4 separate regions of the Homo sapiens genome follow, and regions 1, 2 and 4 are each linked to region 3. Evidence: fine-mapped expression QTL. A gene starts in region 3. Each other region holds a variant in brackets. All regions are shown on one strand. Distances are from middle to middle.

The links. PIP is the estimated chance that this variant, and not a neighbour inherited with it, causes the effect. A credible set is the group of variants that fine-mapping cannot tell apart.
Region 1: its variant is the best candidate, but not a certain one, in a credible set for the expression of LPCAT2 in whole blood (TOPMed, PIP 0.72).
Region 2: its variant is the best candidate, but not a certain one, in a credible set for the expression of LPCAT2 in whole blood (TOPMed, PIP 0.53).
Region 4: its variant is the best candidate, but not a certain one, in a credible set for the expression of LPCAT2 in monocytes after triphosphate RNA (Kim-Hellmuth 2017, PIP 0.90).

What each region holds. Positions count from the first base shown.
Region 1 is chr16:55,549,971-55,552,470 of GRCh38, reverse strand. It overlaps LPCAT2 (lysophosphatidylcholine acyltransferase 2), which reads right to left. Exons shown (of 14, transcript NM_017839.5): 11 at 1,369-1,522. Among named protein-coding and RNA genes, the nearest start is that of CAPNS2, 15 kb to the left of the region's middle. The variant T/G (reference allele first, on the strand shown) is at 984.
Region 2 is chr16:55,543,116-55,545,615 of GRCh38, reverse strand. The region is part of intron 8 of LPCAT2 (lysophosphatidylcholine acyltransferase 2); the gene reads right to left. Among named protein-coding and RNA genes, the nearest start is that of CAPNS2, 22 kb to the left of the region's middle. The variant C/T (reference allele first, on the strand shown) is at 1,072.
Region 3 is chr16:55,507,988-55,510,487 of GRCh38, reverse strand. It overlaps LPCAT2 (lysophosphatidylcholine acyltransferase 2), which reads right to left and starts at 1,416. Exons shown (of 14, transcript NM_017839.5): 1 at 1,136-1,416. The coding sequence starts at 1,306.
Region 4 is chr16:55,582,976-55,585,696 of GRCh38, reverse strand. It overlaps LPCAT2 (lysophosphatidylcholine acyltransferase 2), which reads right to left. Exons shown (of 14, transcript NM_017839.5): 14 at 1-2,721. The coding sequence ends at 2,599. Among named protein-coding and RNA genes, the nearest start is that of CAPNS2, 18 kb to the right of the region's middle. The variant T/C (reference allele first, on the strand shown) is at 1,158.

The sequences.
Region 1 (2,500 bases), 42 kb before region 3:
AAGTATTTACCCAAGTAAAATGAAATGAAAACCTACATTTATATAATAACCTATATACAAATTCTTAGAATGACAGCTATAGTCACATTTGCCCCCAACTGTACACAAACCAAATATTCCTCAACTAGGGAATAGATAAAGTAACTATGGTACATCTATACAATTGAATACTACTCAGCAATGAAAGGGAATTAATTATTGATCTATAAAACACCATGCCTGGATCTCAAATGCATTATACTTGGTGAAAGAAGCCATACTCAAAAAACTATATACTGTATGATTCCATTTATATGACATCTGGAAAAAGATAAACTATATTGATGGAGAACAGATCACTGGCTGCCAGGACTTAAAACTGGGGGAAGGGCTTGACTACAAATGGAATAGCTGCAAGAAAATATATATATTTTTTCAACTGTTGTGTATCTTGAATGCAGTGGTAGTTACATGCTTCTGTGCATTTGTTAGAATTCATAGAACTGTAACCAAAAGAGTGCATTTTACTATCAATTTTTTTTTGAGAATAGGGTCTTGCTCTGTTGCTCAGGCTGGAATGCAGTGGCATGATCTTGGCTCATTGCAACCTCGCCTCCTGGGCTCAAGTGATCTTCCCACCTCAGCCTCCTGAGTAGCTGGGATTACAGGTGTGCACCACTATGCCTGGCTAATTTCTGTATACTATCAATTTTATATATTAAAACACAAATTAAAAAATAGAAAACCTGAAGTTGTGAACAGTTTTCCTAGGGAAACTTTTTGACAGTTCAATTATCTAATTGCATGTCCTTAAATATTCATAAGCAGCAAACTGTATCCCTAATATAATGGCAAATGGCCAGATTTTAATTAAAATCTTTGTTACAAAATGTCACTTGAAAATAAAAATCTATTTGGTCTTCATACAGGTTTGTGGAAGTCTAAAACCTTCAGAATAAAATTCTAAACACCCATGTCATCAATGTATGAGTTTTGATATAAAT[T/G]TTAAAATTCCTGCCAATGATATAAACTCTTCCAGTTCCATACCACAAATGTGGTTATATGGTCACAATATTTATTTCTGACCTGGTATTTAAAATAATAGATACATACATTATATCATATTACACTAAAATAATAGATATATATATGATATGATATGATATGATATTTTATTATATATGACAGTATAATAAATGTTACAATACACACACACAATTATTAATATTACTATTAAGGAGAAAAAAACAAAATCATGCAATTAAACCATAGGCTCAGCCTTGATTCTTCTAACACTGACCTATCAAGTTTTTCAAATTGCCTACCATATTGATTTACTCACTGTAGGACTGACAGAGTAAAAATGTGAAAGATTAAATTTTAACATACCCTGTCAAAGAGTGCAAAAAGTTGTCTCAAGACATCTGAAACAGGCAACTTTAAATACTTGGCGAATTCTTCAATTCCAATTCTTCCTCCTTTTGAGGAACTCGCAATAGATGCATATTCATCCAAATGCTTACGAACACCATCCCAATCTAATCTAAACAAACAAAGAATTATAGATACATGTTATTAGCCCTTTACAATTCACATGCACATTTTATGATCATTATTTTATTAATGTATCTGGGAGAAAAATATTTTAAGTGTTAAATTTGTAAAGGAGAATAAAATAGGTACTTAAAAGCACATATTCAACATATATGCAGGCATTTAATCTTTTATTTTGTATTTTTTAGGAGAGATGGGGTTTCACCATGTTGGCCAGGATGGTCTCGATCTATTGACCTCGTGATCCGCCTGCCTCGGCCTCCCAAGGTGTTGGGATTATAGGTGTGAGCCACCACGCCCGGCCCGCATTTAATCTTTTAAAGGATACTTGTATAACTAACAATTATCTCAAATATCTCAGGGAAAGAAAAGTATATGAAAAGAAGAACATTGTAGTGGAATAATAAATTATTCATGAGAAGAAAATAAGAAAGCAAATATTTTAAATCTAAACATTACTTAGTGAGTCCATAGTCTGTATTAAGTTTTTAAAGATGAAATAACAATTCTTGCTTTCAAGAAGCTTTCAGGCTGATAATGAATTCATATTTCACAAAATGTTATGATAGGGGGATTCATTAGACTATACACATGTCCTCCAAGATTAGTTATGAAAAACTACGGTGATAAAACACTGGAAAATGTACTGTAGCTTACATCATAGCCTATCTTTGCTTTGTTGAATTAAACTAATGACCTAACATATATTCTTAGCCCAATTTCAGTGACTAACTAAACTTTTTAAATCTACAGAACATTGTAACTATAATATGCAAACAAAAGCAAAACATTTTTATTATCTTACAATATAAATAATATTTTCTATATCAGTTATCAAAATATTATACTTTAATACTGAACTTTGATATAGTAACTGGTTCTTCAGCTCCTTCATAGACAGGATGTTAATTAATAAATTCTGCAAATTCCAGTTAGGGCTGAGAACAGAATGAACTGCAGTAAGGGT
Region 2 (2,500 bases), 35 kb before region 3:
TATGAGGTAATGGGGCACTGGGCTTGTACTCAGGAGATCTGTTTCTAAGCCCTGGGTCTGCTTGTGTGTTAACTAGTATGTCATTTAACTTTGATGAACCATTTCAACTCTAAAAAGAGGGCTAAGATCACTACTTCCCTGGTGATTGTGAGGGTGAAACAAGTCAGTGTCTGGAATTCTGGAAGTGTAAAGCTGTAGCTACTAAGATCTTTCTCCTCGAGCTGCATTTTCTACCACTCTCATCCCTTTATGTGAAACTCCCATCCCTTTATGTGAAAACTTTTTTTTCTTTTCTCTTTGCCTTTCATCTTCTCTATCCATTCTAATGTCAACCATATTTTTACTATTTGTTTGAACTTTATGTTTTGTCATTTATTCTGCTTTTTAAAAAAACTCTTAGTATTGGCTTTACAGCTTTTTTGCTTAACACCATTTTTTGCTTTAGCATTTTTAATTCTACTTTTTCTCCACTTGATGTTCTGTGATGCCTCAATTGTATTGTTCTTGTTTTTATTTATGGTTTCCTGACATTAACAAGGTTTTAGTGCCATATTCAAGTTATTACGTATTTTTCAGCACCTACTATATACCAGGCAAGATTAATAGGACCCTATTTCCTGCTCTAAAGAAGATCAATATTTTAATAGTATAGAACAACACATTAATAACCCCATATGCTAAGTGTCATTACCCTTATTACCCCCAATTATAGATGGGGCTCAATAGCTTAATTAACTTACCTAAAGGCATGCAAGTCACATGGCCAGAATTCAGCCCAAGATTTGTCAGATTCAAAAAAAACCCTTATTTTCTCCACTAACCATCCTTCCTGGAGTATGAGAGCAAGAGGTAGGAAAGGATTAATTTTGTCAGGGGCCAGGGAAATGCAGCCAAAGAGGAAGGTGGTGCCTAGGGAGAGAGTGCACACAGGAAAGCTAATTCTGTTAAGGGTGCTCTATAGAAGAACTAATACTTGATGTTGGCTTTTTAAGAATAAGTGAGATTTTGCCAATAGTTACTGTTTATTGAATTATAACTACAAACCAGGCATCATGCTAGGTGTTTTACATA[C/T]GTTATTTTATTTCATTAATTTTTCCCCCATAGTAGGTGCTCAGGCACTGCACTAAGCCCTACAAACATGACAGCAAAGTCCCTGCCCTCAAGAAGCTCTCCATTCAGTAGGGTAGAAATTTATGAAACAGTGAGCTAAATCCACCAATAAGAGTTACCATCCATTAAACATCTACTGTGTGCTGGGTATTTTATATTAGGGGCTTTATATGATTAACTCTCTAAACAATTCCTTGAGGTAAATCTTACCACTTCCATTTGATAAATAAAGAATGCAACTAGAAGTAGTTAAAAATACCATTTTTTTCCAAATGGACCTGTTTTCAAGTCTTGTCAATCATATTAAGAAAACTGTAAGCATTGGTATCTCAGAGGTGACATTTAAGCAAGGGAATGACATGACCAGGTCCAAGTTTTTAAGTGGTAACTTCAGCGGTAAGGAGTGTATGCACCAAAGAAGAGACTAAGAGCAGGGAGAATGTCTGGAAGCAGCTGCAATCATGGGAGAGATAATAAGACCTTGAGTAGAGGGAGTGAGGATGTGGAGGATGGCATGGATGCAAGTTGCCTTTTTAAGATAAAATGTATGGAATTATAGAATAATGTGCTACAGGATATTTACTTTTCACATTTATCTGATTATTTCCTCTCTAAGGGGGCAGCTGCAAGCTGCAGAAAGTGTTCTTGGACTGGGTTGCTGCTTGAGATCTGCCGTGTGATCCTGGAAAAGTCATTTAGCCTTTATGAGCCTCAGTGCCCTCTCCTGTCAAATGAAAAAATTTAACTAAACGATCTCTGAAGTCCTTCCCATTGGAATTCTGTGTGTGGCTCTCTATTTTGCATAGTTGTTTTTTAAGATAGAAAAATAAACTAAGCCACCAGAGGTCCCCACATCCTTATATATCTAGAATAACTATCTTGGCAAAGAAATATTTCTAAAAATTCCCTGCATCCTGATCTAGTAAAATTTCTTGTATTTGCTTAGTATAAAATCCAAGAAAAAAACAGTAAGTTGAAATTAATGTTCATAAAATCTCTAACAAAACAGTGTAAGAAATTAAAGTTTTTAATTGCCATATAATTCTTCATTTTTTAAAAAAGTCAAACAACCATTTGTAATACACTTGATTTAGGTCATAAAAGGTCATACTGAAAACCTTGAAAAATAAATTGCTGCTACACTGTTAACCAAACATAATACAATGAAATACAGGTTTGGTTTTATATTAGTGCAGGTAGTATTTTTCATAAAATGATTTTTAATAACTCTCATATTGGCGTGACATCTTATTCTTAAGGAATAAAGTTCCACTGAGAGTACAAAATAATTAAAATCCTAAATTTGACACCCATGGGCCTTGGAGGCCCCATTCCTCCTAAGAAGCAATTCAATGGAAATTCTAATAAAAAGTCACCTCTCCTAGAATAA
Region 3 (2,500 bases):
ACATGAAAACTTCAAAATTGTTCCCCCACCCCCCCAACCCCCGCAGAACACACGGACAAATGTGGTTAGCAGGGTCTATCTTGTTCTCTGATCACTAACTTCAACAAAGAGGAAGTCCAAAGAGTGCAACTGCCAATGGTAAAAGGAACCCTTTACAAGAAAAAGGAAAGGAAAGGAAACTTCCTTTGTGCATAACAGTATAGCCATTTTTAACAATGGAAAACAGCCTGGGCTACTACTTCTCATGCTTCAACTTAGGAAACGTTTTTAGGTGAAGACTGATTCTGGACCAAAACTTCTTGAACATCCTAAGCTGACTCAGTTGTCCCTTTTCTTTGATTCTGACTTCCCACCCTCCATCATGCTCCTGCTCAGCTAAATCTTTCCAGCCTTACCTGTTGTTCTAACCACAGACCTAGGCTCTCTGCCTTCTGCCTCACTCTTATCCATCCCATACTGACTCCTCTCCTTCCTAAGGCAAAAAAAAAAAAAAAAAGACTTCTTCAAATCTACTCTCCCGTAGTAGATCTGCCTCCCACTACACTCTCATAAACTCAAGTTGAAGCTTCTGTCACAGATTCACAGATTCCTTCAACCTTCTGGGGCATGGAATGTAGCCTGCGCCACCAGCCAGCTCAGTCTCTTCCTGTTTTGGATTCTCCTCTCAGGCCCGCATCTTCCCAGCATCTTCTCTCCTCCCGTGCCCGCTCAGACCATCCTCTAAATGTCCTCAATTCTCAGACACACATCTCCGCCCCTTTCAGGCTCACGGCCCCTCAGAAGTCCTCTCCTCTCAGATCCACTGCTCTTTCTTCCTCTGATGCCTTTGCTTCCCAGACCCACAACGCCCCTCAGACCCACGCGCCCCTCGACCGCCCTCCCCCGTCAGACCTACACCAGTCACCTGGACCCGCCCCAGACCCTGGCTCCCCTCGGGCCACCTCCCTCCTCAGACCCATGCCCCCTTCAGGCCACCTCCCTCCTCAGACTCTCGCCCGCCTCGGACCACCTCACTCCCTCAGACCCACGCCCCCCTCGGCCGCCCTCCTCTCTCAGACCCACACCCCTTACCTGGACCCCCCTCTGACCTAGGCCCCCCTCAGACCACCTCTCCCCTCAGACCCACGCCCCTCACCTGGACCCGCCTCGCGGAGCCGATCTGCGTCTGCTGCACGAAGGGGTTCGGCACCGGCGGCGGGAAGAAGGACGCCTGACGGGGCACCATGGGCGGCCGCAGCCCCACGTTCCCGACGCCGGCACCTGGCACTGTGGCCGCCACTTCCGCCGCCTGGGCGCACCGGCTCATAGTTGAGCCGGGCGTAGAACCCGGCCGAAGCGATCTACGCGGGCGCTGCAGCCAAAACTGAGCCGAAGACCTACTAGAGTCCCAGCCTAGGGCGACGCTGGGGAGCCTCTGCGCAGGCGCTGAAGTTACTTAGACGCCTGCTGCTGCCGCCCTGCCCCTTCGGCTGTGACACGCCCCAGGCTCTGGCCACACCCCCTCAGGCATCTGGCTCCACCCCCTTGGTAATATAGTCCATCCCCTCGGAGGGGAATGTTTTCCTTCCGAGCCAAGACCCTGAAGGGTACCCCAGGATCCCTAACATTCCACAGCGAGACACTAGGCAGAGTTCCCTGCTTTAGGGTCGGACGGACCTGGATTTTCAATCCCTTTTACTGGGCCTGTGACGCTGGCCAAATCACTATCTCTATGAACCTCGGTTGCCTTCCGTAAAATGCAGATAAATGTATTCTCAGATAATCCTAACCTGGATCCAGTAATGCCATTGAGCAACCACTTCCCCTGGGCTGTTCCATTAAGTGAGCTAATATTAATACACCCATGATGGCACTAGGAGTGGAATTTGTTTCACTCAAAACATAATGGACTGACAGGGGAGAGATGGTTCTCCAGAGGAAAACTGAGCTACTATTACCAGAAAAGGCAAAAATTACAGTTGCCCTCCACGCTAGATGAGGAACCTGACCCAGAAAAGGGAAATGTATTGGGCTGTGGCTCCCTTTCACACTGAGGAAGTTCAAGCCTGTTTGGACCTATGTGGGTGCTCGTGGGGGTGGGAGGGCAGGGGTTTGTCCCATTATCTGAGGACAGTTGATCAACCCTGAGTGGCTGAGAGTTAAAGGAAGGAGATGATAATCAACTCATCCCAACTGATCAACTCTTCTCACAGCAGGTAGGAAGGCCAGGATGAAAATCTGAGTCTGAGCCCTGGGGTTCTCCAAAGTTACCCTCTGAATGTCAGAATCTTCCAGCCCTACCACATAGATGTGTGGCCTTGAGTCAGTCACTTAACCTGAGTTTGCTTCCTTGTCTAGGAATGGGAGATTCATTCTAACTCCATAGAATTGTAGCAAGGATTAAATAAAATAATGCATGTGTAGTGTTCATAGAGAAACACTGAAGAAATGGCATGTTTTAAGCATTATTATGTTGTGGAGCCACTGACTTTTCTCTCAGTGTAACAGGGAACATTAATAA
Region 4 (2,721 bases), 75 kb before region 3:
GGGCTAAACATACAAAATGCAAGCAACTTGGTCTGTAAGCAGTCAGTATGTCATTATCCTTCAACAGAACTCTTTCAATTGAATGTTTGTGGTTTAGAGGTTTTAGGATATAATATTTCTCACTTCAAAGAGTTTTTTTATATTACTATATGAAGCCATGGTGCATTTAACTGACTTAATAAAATGTAATTCTTACTTTAAGTCTTGAGAGGAGAAAAGCCTCTGTGAAAGAAATCTTTGTTAGCAAGGCATATAAGCAGAGTCCTGGTCTGCAATAATATTGATGATCACGACTTGTGTGTTACTATATAAAATTCAACCAGTCAAAATTCAACATCTTTAAGAATATTGCTACTTTGGGCAAAATTTGAGTTTCATTAGAGTAAAATCATTTCTGACATTTCATAAAGTTTAATGCAAACAAAAATGATTAATCATTCATAAATATGTAAACATATGATATTAAAAGGGTATATTACATTTGAGACAAAATGGCAGAATCAGAATTTTTTTAATTGCTAAGAATTTTATGTAGCAAGTTTGTTTATTCAGTAACATAATCACAAAATAGAAATATCACATTCACAGAAGTGGAAATAAAGAGCATAAAATATTTTTAAAACAGGAAAGCAATGGGATCACTTTCAAGAGCCTCAAAGAAAACCTTTAATTTACAATGCTACGCTTTCATGATTAATAGGATTAATGTGTGGTTTTTCTTTGATAAAAGTAGTCATGATTTTTTAGTATTACATACATTCATTGCATATGACAGACACTCTGATAAAAATGTACTGTTCTAATTACTTAATTGTTTTGGCTCATTTAACACCTTGTTTAAATAGCTTTAAGACATATAAGAGGCAAATAATTATATATACTTAAGGATAAAATTTTCAGATATTTATCCAAACACACATTTACCCATTAAATTAGAACACTAACTGCTTAATATGTAAAACTAGTTTGAAATCATGACTCTTGATTAAATACATACTTCAACATCTCTCATGAGACTTCCCAACTTCAAAAATGACTTTAAAAAATTAGCTTGGGGGTGAATCACCAATACATTCAGAAACACGGCCAAAACAAGGAGTTTTATTTCAAAGACTGAATTCAGAAAATGAACCAACTATTTTTGTACATTATATTAA[T/C]AAATTGGTTCTTTGTTGAAAACCTCAAACATGAATGATATTAGCAATATGCATGTGTGAGACCCATTAAAAATGACAATTCAAAAAAATTACTGCTTAACCTAAAGGAAAAATGTTACTGTTGGATTCCTGCCTGGGGCTTAAATTGTGGTCTTGCATTAATAAAGTACGTTTGTTGATTCCCTAGCTTTGGGTGATACCTTGAAACCTTTTGTGTTTTCTGGGAGATATTTCACACAAGTTCTAAAATTTGAGAGTCCACTTAACAAAATAAAATTCCCACTTACATGATAATATATTAATTCTAATATTATATAAATAGAACAAATCTGATTCATTTATAGGGCAAGTGCTACATTCTGAACTATCTAACTCAAATTAAATTCAACTCTGTGGCAAACAATTCATTTTCTTATTAGGCAATCAATGTTACCTTCAATAAGGCAATTCCCATTTACCTTCTGGCCATAGCAGTTGTCTTAAAACCAAGTTCTAAACCTGTAGTTCATGTAAAAGGATATGATTTCCTTAGCAAGTAGTTAAGAAAATCTACAATAGGCCGGGAACGGTGGCTCACACCTGTAATCCCAGCACTTTGGGAGGCTGAGGTGGGTGGATCACCTGAGGTCAGGAGTTCGAAACCAGCCTGGCCAACATGGCAAAACCACATGGCTACTAAAAATACAAAAATTAGTCGGGTGTGGTGGTGGGCACCTGTAATCCCAACTACTCGGGAGTCTGAGGTACGAGAATCACTTGAACCCAGGAGGCAGAGGTTGCAGTGAGCTGAGATTGCACCACTGCACTCCAGCCTGGGTGACAGAGCAAGACTCCATCTCAAAAAACAAAACAAAACAAAAAACTACAATAGAGATGTATGTCAAAGAGAATATAAGTTCTTAAGAAGCTGCGTCTAATTAGTGAAGCTCTCCCTTCCCATATTCAGTGATCCAAGAAACTGAAATTTAAATGGAAAAATGAATCTGTAAAGTTATAGATGTCAAATTCTCAGATTCTTCATTGTTATTTCCCAAGTGGAAAAGGATTAGAAATAATAGAATATTATTGATTTTTAGAGGAAAGTAGATTAAAAAGTGTTTACATTTTTAAAACTTTATACAGTGTTGCTCAATGCTCACCAATAGACCATTGCATTCATTTGTATATGCAAATTAAACTGGAAAATCCATAAAAACATATGTATCACCAGTAAATGAATCAGTAAAGTACAATATAACACAAAAGAAAACGAAATATTGCTTGATTTTTTCCAATAAAAGCAAGGTTAATAAAAACATTTTTAGTAAGAAAATCTATCATTTTTGTTTTAAAAATCTTTCAATTTTAAACATCATTACCAACACATTAAAAGTATTATCAATAAGTGCCTTTACAATTTCAAGCAAAAGCTACTGTGTTTTCCTTATTGGAAATACTGCTTTCAGTCATCTTTTTTGTCTGAGGTACTCTCTTCATGCTTTTCAGGGCTGACTTTATTACTGGCGGTGGAGGGGGTTGTCTGGACTTCTTTTGGTAATGAAAACACATGGCACGTCTGGAGGTC